Homo sapiens: one gene and its partner. The protein of the gene in region 2 interacts with the protein of the main gene of each other region in a pairwise test. Each region holds a gene or a part of one and is shown on either strand. Other genes may lie near its edges.

Region 1 (3,753 bases), on a different chromosome or scaffold from region 2:
TTGGGGAGGCCAAGGTGGTTGGATCCCTTAAGCCCAGGAGTTTGAGACCAGCCTGGACGACATGGTGAAACTCCATCTCTACAAAAAATATAAAAATTGGCTGGGTGTGGTGATGTATGCCTTTAGTCACAGCTACTTGGGAGGCTGATATTGCGGGGTACTGCTTGAGCCTGGGAGGCGGAGGTTGCAGTGAGCCAAGATTGCGCCACTGCACTCCAGCCTGGGCAACAGAGTGAGACTCCGTCTCCAAAAAACAAATTAAAGAAACTGATACAAAAGAAAATCAGCATTTTCAATCAATTTTATTATTAAAACATTTCTGTACCCCATATTAGGCATAAGGTCACCAAGAACACAATAAATTCAGTATTATCAGTGAGAGATTAAAGGGTGAAAAATGTAGTATACACTTTTCCCCCTACAAGGGAACTTATTTCAAACTCTAGGGATTCTTCTATCTATAGACTACTGATCTCAACAGAAGACAGATGATACTAGACAACTGCTTAAAACAGCTGCTGCAAAGGAATTAGAATATATGATACTTAATAGAATTCTTAAGGCAAGATGTGGATTTGGGGATATAAATCATGTAAATTATATCCATTTTTAAAAAGTAGTTTTCAAGAAATTGTTTCTGTTTTTAACAGAAAAAAAATAGTTTCAAGTTTGTTTATGGTTAAGTAGCTAATGCTCTACAATTACTACAATTCCCCTCAAGAGCCCCACAAAGAGTTTACTACGTTTTTACATTTGGTGAAAAGCATGAGCAATCACCTAAAAATAAACATAACAAAATTTTAGAACCTAGTTATCTTAAACCAGTGCCAAGTATTACTTTCTCTAAATATAGACATTTAATTCTGAAAGACTTCTCAGTAACAGGTGGTAACCAATGTTGGGTTTAAATTCAGTGCTTTATTTTTAAAATCTTGCTCTGACAGACTGCAGGACGTTGTCATTTGCAGATTTTGCCACACTGCAGTCATAAAATACTTTCAACAGAATATATTTCACATGTTCAATCAGAAAAATAACTGTTACAATCAGTTTTCATAAATTACCAAGATGACATTCTTTCAGTCCCTTTGGGAACTGTTGCCACCATGGGACCAGGAATTATTTCCAAAGGAGTGACATCGAGAAAGCAAAGAACGACTAAAACAATAATTTCTTTCACTGTAATCAAAATTATTAACATGTAATTAATTGTGCTACCTGAATAATCTTCCAAGACTTTTTGTGATAGATGGCAATTAGTATCATCTCCCTTTTTACAAATAAAGAAACTGAGGCACAGATAATTTAATTTATTCAAAACCATGACATAAATTTGTTTTAGAAAGTGATCAGATAGCCATATATTGGCTACATAATTCTACACCACTAGTTTTAACTAATCAAATCTCACATAAGCAAGTGGCTAATTTAAAAGACTGTAATAGACACAGTACCACCCCTCATTGCTGGTGAAATCTCAACTAGTCTCTTTAGTCTGGACGTTGTGCAATATTATTAAGTGGGTTACTTCCAGAATCCCAATGTAACTTTAGTTCACCTCGTAGTAACACAGACAATCTCATGGCTATGTGTTGCAGCAAAAACAGCAGGAATCACTATAAAAATGTCTCCACAGTCGAGCATCTGAACTTGTCAATAACAGAATTCATTATACCTCCTGACAAAATCTGCCCCTCCACTTCTCTCTTCTTTGGAAGGGGGGTGAAAATACCATTCATGCAGTCACTCAGAACTAAACGAGAAAGCATCCTAGAGGCCTTCTTCTCCCTTAATCCCAAAACTAATCAATAGATCCAGCCAATTTAATCTCCCACATACTTGCCAAATTTCTCCTCTCCTATCCTTATTTCTACCACCACTGCTCTGGTGATTCAGCCCCATATCTTCCACCTATTCATTACACGTCTCATACCTGTTCTCCTGGCCTCCAGTTATGCCCCTCCTCAAACCATCTTCCAGACTGTAGAGCCAGATCACTCTTTTGAAAGCAGTTATAACAATGCTGCTCCCTTATTAAAAACCCTTCAATGGTATCTTATCATCTACACATAGTACAAAGTCCAAACTCCTAAGCATGACCCACAAATCCTTCTGTAATCTAGCCCCTTCCTCACTCTACAGTTTAGTCAACTTCTTAGACCGTTTTATTTCTCTGTGCATTCATTCACATTGTGCTCTTAAGTGGCCTCCTCCACTATCATCAAACTTCCCTTTACCTGTCTACCTCTTACTGATTATAACAACAAATGAGGTCTTTTCTGGTCTCCCCCAATGTGATCAGATGTCCCTTCCGTGTCTGCATCATACCTTTTGCATATCTCTATTATTACAGTTAATTATATTAATAATTATTATATGATAATTATTTGATTATGTCTATTTCCCCTAATAGAGTATAATTTCTTTGTGGTCAAGGAATGTGTCTTGCCCAGGCAGAGTGGCTCACACCTGTAATCCCAGCACTTTGGGAGGCTGAGGCAGAAAGATCACTTGAGCCCAGGAGTTTAAGACCAGCCTGGGCAACATATGGAGAACCCATCTCTATAAATAAGTAAATAAATAAAAATTAATTGGGCATGGTGGCACACACCTGTGGTCCCAGCTACTTGGGAGGCTGAGATGGGAGGATCACTTGAGCCCAGGAGGTTGAGGCTGCAGTGAACCATGATGACACCACTGCACTCCAGCCTGGGCAGTAGGGTGAGACTTCGTCTCAAAAAAAAAAAAAAAGCAATATGTCTTATTAGTCTTTTTATACCCAGGTTCTAAAACAGTGCCTGGGGCCAGGCACGGTGGCTCATGCCTGTAATCCCAGAACTTTGGGAGGCTGAGGTGGGTGGATCACTTGAGGCCAAAAGTTCGAGACCAGCCTGGTCAACATGGTGAAACCCCATCTCCACAAAAAATACAGAAATTAGCTGGGAATGTTGGCACACACTTTGTAATCCCAGCTACTCAGGAGGCTGACATGAGAATCGCTGGAACCTGGGAGGAAGAGGTTGCAGTGAGCCAAGATTGCGCCACTGCACTCCAGCCTGGGCAACAGAGTAAGACTATCTCAGAAAAAAATATAAATAAATAAATAAAAGAGTGATTGGAAATAATATTCAATAATTGTTTAATGAATAAATATCCCTACAGTATATTAAAACTCTATAAAAGCATTTGATATCGTTTGTGGTAACGGGTGGTAGAAACTATTTATCAGGGTAATTTGATTACTCAGGAAAATTGTGACAGAGATGCTGGTGCCCTGAGTCACTGCTCCTGGACACCAAAATTATGCAAGTTTGTATTACTCAAATGAATTGATATGGACACAGATATGGTTACAGTTCCAAGAGGAAACTTTATCCAATCTTCAAGAAATATTTTTTGAGAGACTTGTATGAGATAGGCCCTGTTTTATGCACCAGGAATATAAGTGAACAAAACAGACAAGGTCAGCCAGGCACAGTGGCTCATGCCTGTTATCCCAACACTTTAGGAGGCTGAGGGAGGATTGCTTGAGCCCAGGAGTTTGAGATGAGCCTGGACAACATAGTGAGGCCTTGTCTCTACAAATAAACAAAATTAGCTGGGCATGGTGGTACATGCCTGTGGTCCCAGCTACTTGGGGGGCTGAGGTGGGAGGATTGCTTGGGCCTGGGAGTCAGAGGCTACAGTGAGCCATGATCACACCACTGCAGTTCAGTGTGGGCAACAGGGCGACAGAGTAAGAGCCTGTCTCAA
Region 2 (3,753 bases):
TCAGTCTTGTTCACTGAATCCCCATTACACAGAACAGTATCAGCACACAGCAGGCACTTGATAAAAGTATTGAATAAATGAATAAGAATAATAATAAGCTCAAACAATAATGTAAACCAGAAGAAAAAAAGAAGGCGGACTATACACCGAAGCTAGCAAGGAAGAGTGGAATTTAGAGAATGGAAATTTCACCATGGCTCTAGTCCCAGAGAAACTGGTACCTCTTAAACTGCAAAGGTAACCATTTAAGAAGTGAGCAGTCTGTATCCCATGATTAAGCAAGAGGACACTATGCCTTTCACACTACAATTACCACTGTCAGCAAGGTTTTATTTTAAGGGAGCCCTGACTACAAGGCTACCCCAGCCACAAATCTACTGCTCTATATCTTGCCATCAGGCATCACTGGTCCACTTCCAGTAATAATTTGTCAGCTACAGCAGGTTCAGACATGCCGTCTTCTCCATTTATACCACAGAGAACCACTGACCCTTGTGCAAATGAGCCTCTTTGCAAACCCCGTAGACTCATGGTCCTATCTGCTCCTTACCCGTGCTCTGCCAGACATGTCACTGAAAAGAGTGGTAAAAGTAACACAGAACAGATCCTGCTTTTTTTTTGCAGAACCTAGTGTTTCTTTGCCCATCAGTTCCGCCAAAGACGCAAACTTCTTGTAAAAGCGGTAAAGGGGAAGATTTCTTATTCAGATGCGTACTAGCTGCAAGTTCTTGGCAAGCCAGTTACCATCCCCACACCTGTTTCGTCCTCTGTAAAAGAGGGATGATCACGGTATCCGTCTCAAAGGAATGTTGTAAGAATTCAATGAGCTAATGCATGTAGGGCAATTAACGTAGTGCAGAACACGCAGAAAGCAACAAATAATGGGGACTGCTTTTCTTATTAAGAGGATAATGATGATGACGATTTTTAGCAGTAGAGTATGAATTCCTGGAGGGCAGCGACAGTGCTTGGTTCCCCGTAGGTTTCAAATGAAACTGAAAAATATAGAAAAGGGGACAACGGCTTCCTCATTTCCCTGTCCCTAGACCTCTCCCCGTCAAATCAATCTCGAGATGGCTGCCATTTGCCTAAACTGGGGGTAGGGAGCTTGGATCGTAACCAGAATAGAATCAAAGGGTGGGAACCATCTAGCAGCTCCAGGGGCAATCGATTACTTTATTATCCTCAAGTTTATGCCCCAGAGTGGCAAAGGCGAAGTAAGCAGCGCTCCTAGGGCCTTGGTTGTGGAAACAGGGGCTCATAAATGGCCAATGCACACCCCGGGGAAGCCTCCCTCTCCAGCACCGTGGGAGGGAGAAGAAAAACGGCCCAAACAATTTGATCACCACGATGGGGTTCTCCGGCTCTGGCCCGAGTTTTATTCACCAGGGACGGCCCCCTGCCCTCTCCCCAGCGCCCCATGCCCACCTCCTCCAGCTCCTCCGATTTAAGACTCCAAACCGAGGGCCCTCCAGGCGGGGCCAGCATCGGAGCATCACCTCAGCGCCCGGTGCTGGCTGCCCCCGGGGTCCCGCCTCCCAACAGCCGGCGCCTTTCCAGGGGGCTCGAGGCCCGGGAGCCCAGCACAGAGCCCGCCCTCAGCTTCTCAGGGCGCCAATTTCGCCTCGCCAGACCACCTCTCAGCCCGGACCCGTCAAGGCTCAAGCCCCCTCCTCATGCACACACCTGATCCCCCACGGCCCCTTCAGCTCCTCTCCCCTCGCCACGGGCCTTGTCAGGAAGCGAATGGCTCAAATGGTACTGACAGAGCGCAGCTCGGTCCGCCGCCGCCTTCTCCTCCTCCTCCCCGCCATATTACGGATCTCAGGCTGCAACGCGGGCTCCTGGCAACCGCCGCCGCTGCCACCCCGACTCCACCTCTCAGGGCCGGCACTTCCGGTGGTTGATTCCCGGGCTGTTAAAACCGTTGGGCCACCAGAACACTACCATCCCCGAGGTGCATTGCGCGCCCGCGATGGAGGACGTAATGCTTACGGCCAGCACGCTGCACGCCGGGAAACGTAGTCTTCCTTGCAAGCTAGAGACTAGAATTTATTAATAAATTTACTTATTTAGTAGAATAGGAACACCCCTCAGGGTCTGAAGCCCCCTGAAGTGTTCCTTGAAGTTGCCATTTTTTTCTTATCTGTATAAAGATAACCCCTTTCTATGCAGCCGTTAGAAAACATGTAACATTCACCAAAATATTTTCTTGTAGGTAAAAACTTGCTGAACCCACCGGGCGTGATGGCTTACGCCTATAATTCCAACATTTTGGAAGCCGAGGCGGAAGGATCGCTTGAGCCCAGGAGTTCGAGATCAGCCTGGGCAACAAAGGGAGACGGCATCTCTACAAAAATTTTAAACGTTAGCCGGGTGGGGTGGCGCGAGCCTGTGATCCCAGCTACTCGGGAGGCTGAGGTCGGAAGATCGCTTGAGCCCAGGAGGTCGACGTTGCAGTGAGCCATGATTGCACCACTGCATTCCAACCTGGGCGATAGAGTGAGACTGTCTGAAAGAAAAAAAAAAAAAGGCTGAATCCTAGATGCCAACTGGAAGGCTTAAGACATCTATCCCCTTTTGCAAATCAGTGGGAAAATGCACTAAAGGAAAAAAAGGTAACAGAAAAATCCCTGAATATTTTTGCAAAGTTCTCTACATAAAAATGTTACCAGCCCTCCAAAATATGTCCAGGGGCCCCTTTTCACTCCCTAACTCGGCTTCATGGTCTATCTCTCTTACCCTCCTTCCAGTGCCTGTTTTTGCATATGTAAAATGGGGGTTTTAAAAGTGCCTATCACAAGGGTGGTTGTGAGGCACAGTTGAGGTAACTCCTGTACAGTGCCTGGTACAAAAGCCCTTAGCAGAAGTAAGATTAGGGGGAGGAGGAGTGAAAATGTCACAAATCACTGGGGAGGCCTTTATGTCAGTCCCCACCCTGCCATTAACTGCTTAATTCACCTATCCTCAGTTTCCGCATCTATGAAATAAGGGAATCCTTAAAACCCCTTCCAGTTTTATAATCCGATTGTGCCTTCTTTGCTAGGCTCTTCCAGTCCCCCAGAATCTGGAAAATAAAGTCGATTGAAATCAGTCTCCTGATAGTAACTGTTAGGCTGTATTGAGAATGAGATAAGCATATAAAGTGTTTGCTCGTCAAGTACCTGGGACATGGTAAGTGCTCTGTAAACGTTAGGTGTACTTGCTAACTTTTATTTCCTCCCACAAGAATGTGAATCCCATAAGAGCAAAAACCCTGTAGGTCCTGTTCAACTGTGTCCGGAGCACCTGGACCGGTATTTGGCACATCTTGAATTGAACTGAACTGAACTGAATTGAATTGAATTGAATTGATAGTCTAAGCATCCTGCCTCTCCAGGTTCCCTGGAATTCAGTTTCCTCAAGGGCAGATAAAGGAGTCACTAAAATCCCTTCCAGTCCTACAGCTTTAGGATGGTTCTTATCCCTCCTTTTCTCGCCTAGGAGTCTGAACGCCCAGGTTGAAGTTCAGACCTCGGAAAACCCTAACCCACCTTAGATTTGGAACGTGAGCCTGGGGCCTGGGGCCTGGGCCCTCCCCCGTTGCCATGGAGCGGCTCCGCCCACTGGCGCTGCGAATCCCGATCCCTGATTGGCTGGGCGGCCGACTCCCTCTCTGGATGTGTCTGCTGCCGCCATTGTGCGGCGCTGGTCCCCTCAGAGGGTTCCTGCTGCTGCCGGTGCCTTGGACCCTCCCCCTCGCTTCTCGTTCTA

The links.
Region 1: the proteins of CCP110 (region 2) and KIF24 interact in binary tests that used the Homo sapiens proteins (3 or more experiments, as listed by UniProt).

The regions. Positions count from the first base shown.
Region 1 is NC_000009.12:34,322,609-34,326,361, forward strand, and holds part of KIF24 (kinesin-like protein KIF24), read right to left. Parts: intron 1-3,753. UniProt on the Homo sapiens protein: Microtubule-dependent motor protein that acts as a negative regulator of ciliogenesis by mediating recruitment of CCP110 to mother centriole in cycling cells, leading to restrict nucleation of cilia at centrioles.
Region 2 is NC_000016.10:19,522,022-19,525,774, reverse strand, and holds the start of CCP110 (centriolar coiled-coil protein of 110 kDa), read right to left. Parts: upstream 1,834-3,753; 5' UTR 1,687-1,833; intron 996-1,686; exon of another isoform or gene 1-995.